2 linked regions of the Homo sapiens genome follow. The protein of the gene in region 2 purifies or fractionates together with the protein of the main gene of each other region. This does not show direct contact. Each region holds a gene or a part of one and is shown on either strand. Other genes may lie near its edges.

The links. Proteins that work in one complex are often made in the same cells at the same time.
Region 1: the proteins of DLK1 (region 2) and LAPTM4B purify together in Homo sapiens (affinity purification with mass spectrometry; 4 studies listed by BioGRID and IntAct, with this or other methods). This does not show direct contact.

Annotation. Positions count from the first base shown.
Region 1 is NC_000008.11:97,799,574-97,807,264, reverse strand, and holds part of LAPTM4B (lysosomal-associated transmembrane protein 4B), read right to left. Parts: intron 1,913-7,691; coding exon 1,801-1,912; intron 1-1,800. UniProt on the Homo sapiens protein: Required for optimal lysosomal function. Blocks EGF-stimulated EGFR intraluminal sorting and degradation.
Region 2 is NC_000014.9:100,729,431-100,737,384, forward strand, and holds part of DLK1 (protein delta homolog 1 isoform 1 preproprotein), read left to right. Parts: intron 1-2,611; coding exon 2,612-2,753; intron 2,754-4,718; coding exon 4,719-5,466; 3' UTR 5,467-7,954. UniProt on the Homo sapiens protein: May have a role in neuroendocrine differentiation.

The DNA.
Region 1 (7,691 bases), on a different chromosome or scaffold from region 2:
TAAATCATGTGGTTATAAAGTCACTCCTATCTTGCAGAGGGGGAAATTGAGGCACACAATGATAAGTCACTAGCTCAAGTTTAGCATCTTCAACACACGGCGGTGTCAGAACTCAAACTGACCTCTTCTGGCTTCGGAGCCTACACCTGTATTAGTCTGTTTTCATGCTGCTGATAAAGACATACCCGAGACTGGGAAGAAAAAGAGGTTTAACTGGACTTACAGTTCCACATGGCTGGGGAGGCCTCAGAATCATGGCAAAGGGTGAAAGGGACTTCTTACATGGCGGTGACAAGACAGAATGAAGAAAAAGCAAAAGTGACCTGTTGCCCAGGCTGAAGTGCACTGGCGCGATCTCGGCTCACTGCAACCTCCGCCACCTGGGGTTCAAGCAATTCTCCTGCCTCAGCCTCCCAAGTAGCTGGGATTACAGGCACTCACCACCACACTGGGCTAATTTTTCTATTTTTAGTAGAGATGAGGTATTGTCACCTTGGCCAGGCTGGTCTCGAACTCCTGGCCTCAGCTGATCTGCCAGCCTCGGCCTCAATCTCATGAGACTTACTCACTATCACAAGAATAGCAAGGGAAAGAGCAGCTCCCACAATTCAATTACCTCCCCCTGGGTCCCTCCCACAATACAGGGGAATTCTAGGAGATACAATTCGAGATTTGGGTGGGGACACAGCCAAACCATATCAATTCCAAACAACTGTGCTCAGCTAGTTACTGAAATTAAAGTCTATTTTTCTCCCCCAGGTCTGTTCCCACCTCCTGACTCCGGACTTTCTCAGCTCAGTTAAGATGCAGGTCATCTCCTAAAACTGGAAAGCAGAAGTCATCTTTGATTCCTCCGTCTCCTTCGCTGCCCAAAACAGCAAGTTGCCAAATCCTTCCCTGTTCTCTATCCCCAGTGCAGCCTAGGTGGTATCCCCAATACCACTCTCCCAGGCTCTGTGCTCACACACCCAGTACCCTACTCAGCAGCAAAAGGGATCTTAAATGCATATATCAGTTCATGCATTTAGTTAAAACCACTGAACAGCTTTTTCTTACTTGGAGAAACAAAGAGCCCTCACCATGTCTTTCGAATGCTTCCGATCTCTAAAACTGCATGTTGAGCCACTCTCTCCTCTCTTACTTTGCTCCAACACTTTTTAAGAAAAACTCACTTGAAGTTCTCCGAAGCCAATGAGAAATAAATCTGTACTATCTTCTGCTGGAGATTATGCACAGCACTACTCCTCTCCTTTGGCATGGACTCGGCATAATGATTATAAAATGATGAGGCTGCAGTGATCTTCAAGCTGGGAGCCTAGCTTCCTCCCTGCTTACCCCACATCCACATCCCTGTACATATTTCCATTCACTGGGAAAAGGCCCTAAATTCCCCCAAATAATCTGCAACATCATTTCTAGAATGGAAAAGGATCACTCCTAGAATAAAAATAAATACTGAAACATAATAGAAGACACAAGGAGATAAGCACAAGCCTTTTCACCTTCCTTCCTGGCATTTATACCCCTTCCTCTCAAAAAAGGCCAAAAGGCCCAGGGTAGAAAGTCTATGATAATGCAATCATTTTTAAGTGGGTAAGTTAACATAAGATGAAAATAGATCTTATTTAGACTCTTGCACCTAGAAGACAGAATGTTAGACGCACACAAATATTCGTTGATTTGCAATGACAAGTTATATATCAGCTCAAATGAACTCACGAGTCTATATTTGTAATTTAATAGGAAGTGCTGGCAGTCAGATTCCCTGCCCTTGAAAATACCCAAATATCTACTACTTACTGGCATCATCCATGAACTCAAAGTCACCTCCCAGTTCAGAACTTGAAAAGTTATACTGATCCGGATCAGCCAGGGCACTCAATAAAATCAACAGTACCACAGCATTGATGATCTGCAACAAGAAAAAAAAAAAAAAAAAAGAATTTAAGTAACCCCAGGATGCAATCCTTATAATAGAAAATTACACTGACCACATGGAGTCAGGCTGGCCACAGGCAACTTCTTCAGTGGCTTGACTCTCAACACTAAGCCCCACCCATGGAGGGAGCAGATAAACATTCCCAAGGCAGAAATGCTGCCAGCCCATTCAGTTGCAGCCAAGTGCACAAGGCTTGGAGTGAAGACAACAGCAGGATTTTACCTCATTCCCCCTGGCCCAGGCACCATAGAGCAGTGAACAACACACACAAACACAGGCATCAGCCCTGGCGCCAGTGGTTGAAAAAGCACAAAAACTTTCCAGTGAGTCAGCTACACTCTAGAGCTAAAGGTAAGCAACCCAAGTTGTCTCAGTTAATCAAACATTTTACAGGTTCAAACTAGTGGAGCTTTGAGAGCTTTGAAGCCATCTAGGAAGCAGTTTCAGAGAATGAATGCAAAGCTACATAGTGGATCCAGGATCATCCTTCTGCAATAACCCTTTCCAGGCCAGGCCAGGCCAGGCCAGGCCAGTAGTCCTGTCTTCTGAGTACTGCCCTTGGCTACTTTAAACTCAGCTCCTCTAAATGACAATCACCTTCTTTAACATCTCCCACTTCTGCCCTCCTTATTTGTTCTCTAATTTAAAAAATGGCCTCGCTATTAATAATTAATGAAAAACATTCAGGCACTATGCTAAGTGCTTTATGTGGAATCTCTCTTAAGCCCTGCAATAACCTAACGAAGTGGGTACTAAATTATTCCCATGTTATACATAGCAAACTGAGGCTCAGAGGTTAAAAAACACTGCCCAGGAACAAACAACTACCAAGCTGTAGAGATGGGATTTGAATCCAGGAATTTAGGTTCCAAAACCTAACCTCTACAAGTCTCCTGTCCATATACGAAACTTGATCATCTGAGTTTACCATCTTTATCCTGCACACTCAACCAACTGCAAAATCCTGATCATTCTACCTCTTCATTTCTATTTCCTTTATTCTTCCTGTCACTGCTGGACAATACACACACATATTAACTTTGATGGGGCTGGGGTAGCAAGGATTGCAGAGTTTAAGTGAGGCACCAGCTAAGACTGGGTTGTTGTCTGCTGAGAGACAAGGTGTCTATATTGCCCAGGCTGGCCTCAAACTCCTGGGCTCAAGCAATCCTCCCACCTCTGCCTTCCAAGTAGCTGGGCCTACAGGTGCGCATCACTGGGCCAGGCCAAGACTGGCTTGTTACTTCTTTACTATTCTAAGTTCAGAAACTTATGGCACAGTTCTATGTTTTACTCTTCTCAAATGGAGTGAAGATACACAGAGAAAAGCCTCTTACTAACAACACTAACTAATGGCATATCCTACCACAAAAATCATATTTGGGTTGAACACAGTGGCTCATGTCTGTAATCCCAGCACTTTGGGAGGCTGAGGTGGGAAGATCAGTTGAGCCCAGGAGTTCAAGACAAGCCTGGGCAACACAGTGAGACCCCATCTCAACAAACAAGAAAATGAGCCAGGCACAGTGGTGCATGCCTGTAGTCCCAGCTACTCAGGAGGCTGAGGTGGGAGGATCGCCTGAGCCCAGGAGTTTGAGGCTACAGTGAGCTGATGCGCCACTGCACTCCAACCTGAGCAACATAGTAAGACCTTCCCTCAAAACCAAATAAACAAAAATCCACATACTTGGAAATACCTGTTTAAAGGAAGTGTAAATGTTTTACAGAACATCCATTCAAGAGTTTATTTTTGGCCCGGCACGGTGGCTCACACCTGTAATCCCACCACTTTGGGAAGCCAAGGTGGGTGGATTACTTGAGATTAGGAGTTCGAGACCAGCCTGGCCAACATGGTGAAACCCTATTTCTTAAAATGCAAATTAGTTGGGCATGGTGGTGGATGCCTGTAATCCCAGCTATTCAGGAGGCTGAGGCAGGAGAATCACTTCAACCAGGGAGGCAGAGGTTCCAGTGAGCTGAGATCGTGCCACTGCCCTCCAGCCTGGGTGAAAGAGTGAGACCCTGTCTCAGGGGAAGAAAAAAAAAAGTTCATTTTTAAATGACAATCCCAATTGGTTATTTCAGGATTATTGTAGGATTCGAAGTAACTTTTTTTCTTTTTTTTTTGAGACGGAGTCTCACTCTGTCACCCAGGCTGGAGTGTAGTGGCACGATCTCGGCTCACTACAACCTCCACCTGCCAGGTTCAAGCGATTCTCCTGCCTCAGCCTCTCGAGTAGCTGGGGTTACAAGTGCCTGCCACCACACCCGGCTAATTTTTGTATTTTTAGTAGAGATGGGGTTTCACCGTCTTGGTCAGGCTGGTCTTGAACTCCTGATCTCGTGATCCACCCGCCTCGGCCTCCCAAAGTGCTAGGATTATAGGCGTGAGGCACCGTGCCTGGCCGGAATAACTTTTTTTCTTCCTGTATTTTCCAAATTGTCAAATAAAAGCTGATTGCTTTTCGAAAAAAATTGTAATAATGAGAAGAGCCACTTCCCAGAGTATACATATACATATAACTAATTTAAACAGATACTACAAGCATGTGTTTAACCAAACACCTGAACTGTACAAAGAATATATAGTGAAAAGTTACCTTCTCCGTCAAAGGCATCTGAACCAAAGCGACTCCATTATGAACAGGGGCTTGGTAAAATGTGGCTAAGACCCACTGGGCTGCACTTCCAGGAGGTTAGGCCTTCTAAGTCACAGGATGAGATAGGAGGTCGGTGCAAGGTACAGGTCGCAAAGACCATGCCGATAAAACAGGTGATGGTAAAGACGCCGGCCAAAACCCATCAAAACCAAGATGGTGACAAAAGTGAGCTCTGGCTGTCCTTATTTCTCATTATGCACTAGTTATAATACATTAGCATGCATGCTAAAAGACACTCCCACCAGCGCCATGACAATTTACAAATGCCATGGCAACGTCAGGTAGTTACCCTATATGGCCTGAAATGGGGAGGAACTCTCATTTCCGGGAATTGCCCACCCCTTTCCTGGAAAACTCATGAATAATCCACCCCTTGTTTAGCATATAATGAATAAATAATTATAGTATTATCAGTCGAGCAGTCCAAGCTACTGCTCTGCCTATGGAGTAACCATTCTTTTGTTTCTTTACTTAATAAACTTACACTCACTTTACTCTATGGACTCAATCTGAATTATTTCTTGCACGAGGTCCAAGAACCCTCTCTTGGGGTCTGGATCCCCTTTCCAGTGACATCTCCACAGTAATTATTATAACAGTATCTTGTTTCTCTCCAAAGATCCAAGAAATTTCATAGCACATTTTAAACAGTGTGATTAACAAAACTATCTGAAGAAAACTTTCTGTTACAACTCCAAGGCTTAAAGGAGCCACAGGCCAGTCCCACAACTGGCATTAAGATTTATGGCAAAGATGTTATTTGATAAACTGTCAAGTTTTCTTGGCATTTCAATCCCTCTATACTTTTTTTTTTTTTTTTTTGAGATGGAGTTTCGCACTGTCGCCCAGGCTGGAGTGCAGTGGCGCAAGCTCGGCTCACCGCAACCTCCACCACCCAGGTTCAAGTGATTCTCCCGCCTCAGTAGGAGCCTGTAGCTGCGATTACAGACACCTGCCACCACACCTGGCTAATTTTTTGTATTTTTATTAGAGACAGCGTTTCACCATATTAGCCAGGCTGGTCTCAAGTGATCCGCCTGCCTCAGACTCCCAAAGTGCTGGGATTACAGGTGTGAGCCACTGCACCCAACTCTTCTATACTCTTATTTTTGAGAAAAGGTATGTGGAAAATTGTGGACTGAAATAGGATCAAACGAAATAAGAAGAATGTGCTTTGAAAAATTATGAAGAGCTGGGCATGGTGGCCTGTAATCCTAGCACTTTAGGAGGCCGAGGCAGATGGATCACCTGAGGTCAGGAGTTTGAGACCAGTTTGGCCAACGTGGTGAAACCCCATCTCTGCTAAAAATAGAAAAATTAGCTGGACATGTTAGTGTGTGCCTGTAATCCCAGCTGCTCCGGAGGCCAAGGCAGGAGAATCGCTTGAACCCAGTGGGGGGCGGAGATGGCAGTGAGCTGAGATGGCACCATTGCACTCCAGCCTGGGCAACAAGAGCGAAACTCCATCTCAAAAAAAAAAAAAAAAGTATGAAGAACCACACAAGGGCAATGTACTCCATTATTGTTATCATAACAGGGTAGGGTTTTAAAGCTGAAATGAAAAAACATAAATTTGGGATTCATGGGCAAAAAGCTTTAGAGGAGGGAGCAGAGGTAAGGAGCTGGTCAGAGAAGATGGAAAGGTGAGGAAGTCGTACAGTGTGAGTCTGGGGTCCCGTAGGGCTACTTATGGAGTCTTGTTTTGTTTTTTTTAATTAGAGATGGGGTGTGTCACTATGTTGCCCAGACTGGTCTTGAACTCTCAGGCTCAAGTGATCCTCCTGCCCCGGCCTCCCGAAGTCCTGGGATTAAATGCGCGAGCCACCACCTGACTTTGTATTTTATTCTAAGTGTAACAAGAAGTCAACGGGGCTGGGCACAGTGGCTCATGCCTGTAATCCTAGCACTTTGGGAGGCCAAGGCGGGCAGATCACCATAAGTCAGGAGTTTAAGATGAGCCTGACCAACATGAAGAAACCCCGTCTCCACTAAAAATACAAAATTAGCCGGGCATGGTGGTGCATGCCTGTAATCCCAGCTACTCCGGAAGCTGAGGCAGGAGAATTGCTTGAACCCGGGAGGCGGAGGTTACCGTGAGCCGAGATTGCATCGTTGCACTCTAGCCTGGGCAACAAAAGCGAAAACTCCATCTCCAAAAAAAAAAAAAAAAAAAAAAAAAAAGAGGTCAAGGGGTAATATTACAGAAGGGAAGAATGTCATCTGGCCAGAGTTCAAATGAGTGAATATACATAAAATACCTAGACCGGTGACTGGCATACAATAGCCACTCAAATTAGTTATCTTACCTCTTCACATCTTAACAAGAACCATGTTAAAAGCTCTTGGTTACTAGTTTTCTAGATCTTCTAAAGCCAGTGTTAAGACACCTGCTTTACGCCTGTGCTTTCCCCGCACTCTCAGTCCCTAGGGACCTGTCAACTCTTAATCCGCTTATTATTCCCCCGTGGAGTCTACTGATCATATATAGCTACTAATTGCCTACAACACATATTTGCTAAGTGCTTAGGAAGAACTCCCTAGGACTCAGAACATGAAGTTAAATACATCATGTACCCAAAAAACAAAAAGCATAAAGCAATGAATGTGACAAGAGCTCCGAGAAAGAATCATGGAAGTTAAGGAGAGTTACAGTCAGGGGTTGCAGGGACCTGCAACAGAGATGGGAGCATTTGAACAGGAACTCAAAAGATGAAGATTTGGAGCCTGAGAGGTGTGGAAAAGAACAATTCCAAGTATGAGCAATGCCACTGAGACAAGGACATCTCCTCAAGACAGCAAGTTCAATGTGGCTGGAACGCCAGGGTCAGGGGGTATAAAAGGAAATGTTAGAGGATAGAACCAAAAATGTAGGATGGGGCCAGGTGGTGAAGAGGCCTCGAAACTAGGACAGGAATTCTAATAGTTAATGAAAATGCCATAAAGGTTTTGAGGAAGGATATGACATGATCAGAGCTATGTTGTTAGAAAGAACAAACTGGCAGAAGTGGGAAGGCTAAATTAGAGGCAGGAATCCAATCTGGTGTCAAATAAAAATTATAGGCGGCCATTGTTGCAGATTGAGCTCCTGCACA
Region 2 (7,954 bases):
TCTGGGGATCTCAGAGCTAAGACTCCCTAGAAAAGCACACGCAAGACTGTAAAGAGGCTGCAAACAAACAAACGGGGTGGGGGGTGGCCAGCACTGCTCAGTGGTTGAGGGGCAGGTGCTGAGTCAGGGCCAGGAGGACAGGGCTGGGGGGCCTGGACTGAGTGGGTCAGGTGTAGGGGGAGGCTGCAGTTGGGAAAAGCTGAGAAAGGGTTAAAGTGAAGATGGGTGTTATCTGTTGATTTCATTAATTTATGCAATCTTTGCCTCCATTACCCCAAGCAATTGAGAGTTGGCTGTCACTGCATTTTCAGGCTGCGAAATGTTCGTCTAAGCCCATTTTCATTTGGCAAAACCAGCCCTAACGTTTGAGCAAACTGAAGTCCACAAAAAAACTCCCAGCTGTGTAGCAGCCTGCCCTCAGGGCCCCTGTCCCTCAGTCCCCAACATTAGTAAAGACGGTACAGATAGGGAAACTGAGGATCAGAGAAGCACAAGTGTCTGCTAAGGAATATGAAAGAAGTTGGGCAAAAAGCCAGCTACAACCCTTTCCCCCAGCCCCAGAAAGAGAGTTAATTTTTATCTTCGATTGCATCTAACATCCTTCCTTAAGGAACACCTAAGAGCATTTTGTTGTGGCCCCTGCCCTGTACAGCCAGGGCAGCCGTGGTTCTGAAGCTGAGCTCCCTCCCACCCCAAATTGTCTCTGGTCCTTAATTCCAGCCCCTGCAATATGGTGCAAGGTTTACCCGCAGCTGACTCATGCTCTGGCCAGCATCTCTGCTGCCCCTCACAGAAGCAGCGGCAGCAGCTCTGAGTCGTTTGAGGATCTGGGGGATTCCAGCAAAGCCACCATTTGGGATCAGGGTTAGGCTTTTAGCTTGGAGCCCATCTTTTTGGTATCTAAATGCCGTACACCCTTGCTGAAATTTTCCGGACAAATGCCTCCCTTCTCATGGGCCCTTGGTATGTCCCCTCCCCACCAAGTTGACAAAGGCAGCCAGCTTGGGGATGGCCAGAGAGTCTGGGGTCCCAGAGAAGACATAGCCCTCCCTCTCCCTTTTTGCCCATCTTTGAGGCTGTCGTGGCCACAGCTGCTGTCCCAGCAGAGACCCCCAAGCAGCCTTTTCCTCAGAGCAGCTTAATTCACCCCTGTCTTGGGGTTGGAGGCTCAGGAGGGCTGATCCAGGATTGGCATAGCAGGGAGAGCTGCAGGGACAAGCTGGGGGTGGTCGCCAGCTTTTTAGCTTAAATTTAAGATTCTGAGTGACAGGAGAGTCGGGTGCAGAGAATAAGGAGCCTGACGCGGAGGCGCCACGTGCTAATGCCTTGCCGGTGCCGTCCCGTAAAGATAAATCCTCTTTATGTGTCCTTGCACCAAGCCGGGCTTCCATGGAACACCACGGGGTAGTCCATCAACACAACGTTCAGGCTCTTCCTCCTTGATTGATTGCAGTCTCCCCTCCACGAGGGTGTGGGTCTCTCTGAGAGGGGGAAAAAATACGCACATGTGTGGCCTCAGCACGGGGGATTTCCCCTCCCCCCACCCCCTCCAGCCTGCCTTAGCTTGCTGTGTCTCTCACTGGCCCTGGCTTTCTGTTTGGCAGGTACAGCAGCTCAAATTATAGAAAATCAAAGCTGAAGAGTCCCTCAGAGATTGGCCAGGGAAAGACCCTCTTTTTATAAGTAGGGAAACTGAGGCCCAGAATGGGTAGGAGCTGAACTCTGCTGCCACATGGCAGCAGGCCGGATACAGGGCAGGACAGGGGTCCCTTCCTGGCCCCACTGGGGAGCTGGGGTCTCCATCATCAGAGAGCCCCTGACTCAGGCCCTTGTGTTCAGCTCATCCCTGGCTTGCTGAACCTGAATAATGAAGTGTGCGTGATGGAAGGTGTTAAAAGATGGTGGGAATATACCAGTGCTCATGGAAACCTGTGCTGATAGGAGAGCGCTCAATAGTTCTAATTTCCCTGGCTTTAAAAGATGAAGCCTTTTTACCAGGGACCCCTTGAGTTCAGAGCCTGAGTGCAGAAAGAGAGACCACAGGGACACGTGGTAGTGCTGGGGTTAACAGGTTTCTTGATTCCTGACGGAGGGGGGTCGTTACATCTCCATCCCCCCCACTGCCCCTCTTTGATGGAAAAGTATGAAGAGCTGGTGGTTTTTCTGAGGGTTGGGCTGTATTCATCCCCCGGCTGGCCAGGACCCCTCCCCTAACAGGAGAGGGTGGAGATGCAGTCTTGTCTGGTGGAGACAGGCCTTAGGGAATCTCAGCTAGGCACGCTGTTGCAGGGAGGGGCATGATGTCCACAGTGAACGTCACGGACATGTCGCTGGATATGGGGTGACCTGGTGCCAGGCAAAGGGAACAGCTATCCTGGCCTGAATATCAGTGGCCACGACTTTCTGATCTGTGACCTTAGGCAAGGAAACCCCTTCAGCTTCCTGAGCCTCAGCTTACTCACTTCATGGGTTTTTTTGAGGGGGCTCCCTAAACCCTCTTACTCCAGACCCCACTCGGTGGCCATAGAGCCATTTTAAAGCCCACTGGGGCCCGCATCACGCTCGTGTATGGAGAGGAAGCTAAGTTCTCGTCTTCCCCGTCACCCCGCAGATGTTCGGGCCTGCTCCTCGGCCCCCTGTGCCAACAACAGGACCTGCGTGAGCCTGGACGATGGCCTCTATGAATGCTCCTGTGCCCCCGGGTACTCGGGAAAGGACTGCCAGAAAAAGGACGGGCCCTGTGTGATCAACGGGTAAATATCCTTCCTGTGTGTGATCTAATGAATGCTGCTTTTCATGCGGCCACCAAAGACCCTTTCAGCCTAACCCTGCTGGACCTGTCGTCTGACAAAAGATGAAGTAAGCGCTCATCCTGGCAGCCCCGTAGGGGACCGCCCTGGATGGGAGTATTCACGGGGGAATGTGTCATTGCCATAATTTTTTCAAATGATCCTGAAGGCGATTTCATATTCCCCTGATGTTCTCAAGTCCCGATGCGTGTGAGTGACAGTCGATCGGAATGATGAACTGACACTCGGAGCTGCGTAATTTTCTAAAGGCAACGTAGTAAAAGATTGGAGCTCCGCGGGGCTGAGGCTGTTTGTGAAACCCACTTGCTGTATCTCAGGGGGTGGTTTTGGGGAACTGGTGGGCTCTGCAATTGGATTTTCTGGGATGTCTGTGGAGGGAGTTGCCAGGCTGAGAGGTGAAGAGATTGGGCTTCTGCCAGCACGAGAGGAGGTGGGCCAGCTGTCGGCTATCCTCAGTGGGGAAGGGGGCTTTGGGACTCCTGGGCAGCGGACATAACAGACAGAGTGGCCACTGTCTTCACTTGGACCTCCCTGAACAATGCTTCCCAGCAGCTCAGCCTCTGCCCACCCATTATCTCTTTGGCGGCCCTGAGCCATCCCTCCCCGCTGGATGGGGCTTAGCCTGAAGCCAAGGGAGATCTTGACAGAGGCAGGGTCCGAATGTAAGAATCCAAACTTGAACCCAGTCCTGGGCCTGTAGTTGGGGGGCAGGGGTGTCCCTTTCCTCTGAAGAAACAGAAGCTAACATGCAAATAAGCTTATCTTGACCGGACATCGCAGGGTGGCACAGAGACCCCAGTAGTCTGTAAGAGCTGTAAACAGACATTAACGGGGCTTCCAAAGATCAGTCTTCAGACGGGGTCAGAGTGGGGGCTGGTGAAGACTGAACTCCATTTCTGCTTATTAGCAGGAAGGAGAAAAACAGAGCGAGACCTTTAAAATATTTTGCTTTTCTCGCGAATGGACTTAAACCAGTGTGTCAAAATAGAGCCTAAGGCCCTTGAAATTCCTTCAGAGCCCAGCTCCCATGCAGCCCACACCCTGAAGCAGCAGTGCTGATTTCTTGTGTTTACTGCCCCTTCTTCCCCGGAGTTTTGCCATTTATCGGATGACAAAGGGCTCGCTCGTTTAAAAGCACTTACATTAAATGCTCCTTGTACTCCACTTTGAGCAAACAGCTTTGGTTTGCAAGCTGCACTTGGGTGAATGGACCACTATTAAACAGCCTGGTACAGACGCTGGCTTGTGCCACCGTAGACAGACCTCGTATTGCTTTCTCTTTGAGAGTCCCCAAGCGCTTCCTGCACAATAGCCTGTGGATCCACACCGCTAATAATAATAATAATAATAATGAGGGTTGGCGGCAACAGTGGACATAGGCATGAAGGACGACAGCGGGTCCCGGGATAGAGTGAGGGGCGCCCCTTGCTTGGTTCTTCTGCCCCAGCAGTCCAGGGATGGAGCTAAGGGAAGGGGGCTTGCTCCAGTCCTGGGCTGTCACTGACTTTTCCTCTCCTAGCCTCAGTTTCCCCAGTTGGCTAGTGACTAACCGGTTGGAGACTAACCTCTGGTTGGAGAGGTGCAGTAAGAGGTGGGAGAGGACGTGGGCATCCTGGCATGGGAGGTCGGGTGTGTCCCAGGTTAGCATCGAGATGGGGGTGAGGTGGGCACCCACCCACCCACCCCCAGAGCTACTGGTGAGCTTCTCGCAGACAGGGGTCACGGCCCCGGGCACCTCTCTGTGCCTCCCTGGCTGGCGTTCCCTCCCTCGCTCCCTCATTCACCTGATGTGTTTTAAGCACCTGCCCCTTAGTCAGGCCAGGGACCTTCTGCCCTGAGCCCCGTGCCCTGCAGCGCTGTTGTAGCCTAGCCCCTGAGGCCGTTTACTATGTCCCTGTTGTGTTGCAGCTCCCCCTGCCAGCACGGAGGCACCTGCGTGGATGATGAGGGCCGGGCCTCCCATGCCTCCTGCCTGTGCCCCCCTGGCTTCTCAGGCAATTTCTGCGAGATCGTGGCCAACAGCTGCACCCCCAACCCATGCGAGAACGACGGCGTCTGCACTGACATTGGGGGCGACTTCCGCTGCCGGTGCCCAGCCGGCTTCATCGACAAGACCTGCAGCCGCCCGGTGACCAACTGCGCCAGCAGCCCGTGCCAGAACGGGGGCACCTGCCTGCAGCACACCCAGGTGAGCTACGAGTGTCTGTGCAAGCCCGAGTTCACAGGTCTCACCTGTGTCAAGAAGCGCGCGCTGAGCCCCCAGCAGGTCACCCGTCTGCCCAGCGGCTATGGGCTGGCCTACCGCCTGACCCCTGGGGTGCACGAGCTGCCGGTGCAGCAGCCGGAGCACCGCATCCTGAAGGTGTCCATGAAAGAGCTCAACAAGAAAACCCCTCTCCTCACCGAGGGCCAGGCCATCTGCTTCACCATCCTGGGCGTGCTCACCAGCCTGGTGGTGCTGGGCACTGTGGGTATCGTCTTCCTCAACAAGTGCGAGACCTGGGTGTCCAACCTGCGCTACAACCACATGCTGCGGAAGAAGAAGAACCTGCTGCTTCAGTACAACAGCGGGGAGGACCTGGCCGTCAACATCATCTTCCCCGAGAAGATCGACATGACCACCTTCAGCAAGGAGGCCGGCGACGAGGAGATCTAAGCAGCGTTCCCACAGCCCCCTCTAGATTCTTGGAGTTCCGCAGAGCTTACTATACGCGGTCTGTCCTAATCTTTGTGGTGTTCGCTATCTCTTGTGTCAAATCTGGTGAACGCTACGCTTACATATATTGTCTTTGTGCTGCTGTGTGACAAACGCAATGCAAAAACAATCCTCTTTCTCTCTCTTAATGCATGATACAGAATAATAATAAGAATTTCATCTTTAAATGAGTAAGAGAAATAAGTATGTTATTCTAAAATCTAAACTCAAATGAAATTTCAAAAAAGACCAAAAAAAAACAAGGCAACAGAACCAGGGCTCAGTGCCGACGCCCCTACCCTGGGGGTCTCGGCCACATGGTCCTCGTGAAACCGTTACGAGTGCTGTACATGACCACCCACTGTGCAAAGAGCTACGATTGCTTTCGTTCGTTAATTCTCACACACCACATCCGACTCGCACTCACATCCAGCTCAACATCGCTACCTTTAGATCTTTCCGATTGATTTGAGATTTAGCGGAGTGCAGCGGCTGTGTGTCAGTCAGAGAGAGCCCCAGGTTGGCTGCTGGGGGGCCGGGCCTCTGTGCCAGCCCTGCCACTAACTCGCTGTGTGATCCTTGGCGAGTCCCTATCCCAATCCTGGGCCCACTTTCTCGCCCCTCTCGAGGGAGGGGTTTGAACACCGACCACCATGGTCCTCTCTGGCTCTAAAACTCTGAATTAGGAACGAGGGGGTATGAACCAAAACACTTCCTGACCCCAACAATTGGGATCTGATGAAGACGAATTCTCATCCTGGGATCCGAAAGGTTTTGGCCTATCCTGGATGAACGCTTGATGTTGAAATTTATCCTAACTGTGTTTCTCAAAGTGGGGAGCCTCCTGGCCCACTTCCCTTTTGGGAAAAAATAGCCCCTTTGAGTCATAATGTGCCATCTGGAGTTGCCACTTAGGCAGCCAGCCCTCCCCCACCCCTCTTTGCCCACCCAGAACCCCAACACTATACCTGCCTCTACCCTATAGAGACATCCCTTGAGACTTGAATGTACTTTGAGCCGCAAGTGCCCCTGGCAGAATCTGAGCAGCAACACAGCCCTCACCAAGGTTTTCACAGGGATTAGTGGAAATTGTCACTTGTGGGGCGCTTACTAGTTTTGTGGCAAATGTGGTCCAAGACCTGGCCCACACAGCCATGGGTTTACATTTGTGTTGCTGAGTTAATAATCCTCAGATCTCAAAAGACCTAGCCAGCTTCTGAATTTTGAATTTGACTTTTTTTTTTTTTTTAACAAAGAGCATCTATCTTTTTTGCAAAAATAGAAAGAAATGGGACAGAGCTCTGTTTAGCTTTTCAGCTTTTGGGGTTGGACAGCTAAACAGCCCTTGGGTACCAGATAGGAATATTTTGCTTCTTAGATTATTTGGATAAGAATCTATACTCTTAGCTTTATTGAGCATTGCCTGCCGTGTTTACCTTGCTCCAGGTGTTTATTTCTAAGTCATCATCACCTTCGTCATCTACAGTCAGTCACATCAGTCACCCACACACAACTCACAGTCACCCATCCATTGGTCACCTGCGCCATCGTCATGACACAATATCGACCTCATCACCTCATCGTCCTCCAGCCACTACCCAAGCCCCCTCATCCTGACTCAAAGCCCGACCAGCATCTGCCCAAACTCCCAACACCCCACTCTCCCCACCAAGCCATTGGTCTCCTCACTCCCGGTCCTTTGTCATCCTGATTCCAAGCCCCGCCCCACCCTCACCGCCTCCTCCGCATCATCTGCACTCTGCAGAGCCCCTCCTACCCGCCTCTGTCCCCACCAGGCCCCTCCCTACCGTCAGCCCTGAGTCCCACAGCACGCGTCCCCAGCCCCTCCCAGCCTCACCCCAAAAACCCTGTCACCCCACCGACCACCATCATCACTGGCAAGCCCCTTCCCCTTCTCCAGCTCCCGTCCCCACTACCCCTCCCGTCCCCCAATCCTTCCCCTCCTGTTAGCCCACCCCTCCTTTCCTATCACCCCCACCTTTCCCTTCCCATTCTCCCCACCCTTCCCCTCCGATCCCACCACCCTTCCCTTCCGATCCCCGTCATCCTTCCCCTCTGATCCCCCACCCTTCCCCTCCTGTCCTCCCCAGCCCTCCCTTCCTATCACCCTCACCCTTCCCCTCCCGTTCTCCCCACCCTTCCCCTCCTGTCTCCACCAGCCCTCCCTTCCTATCACCCCCACCCTTCTCCTCCCTTCCCTCACCCCAAACCCCTGGGTCCTCCACCCCAATCTCTGACAACCGCCCCAAGTCCCTCTTCCTTCCCCACGAAGTCATTCATAAGTCACCATCTCATCTCATTTTGAGTTTGTTTTAAGAAATAAAAAAATTAAAAAGACAAAAAAAAGAATTGTTGGCATGTGTCAGGCGGGCGTCTGGTACCCTGCCTGGCCTCTCTCAGCGTGAGACCTGGACTGAGCCTGCTAACG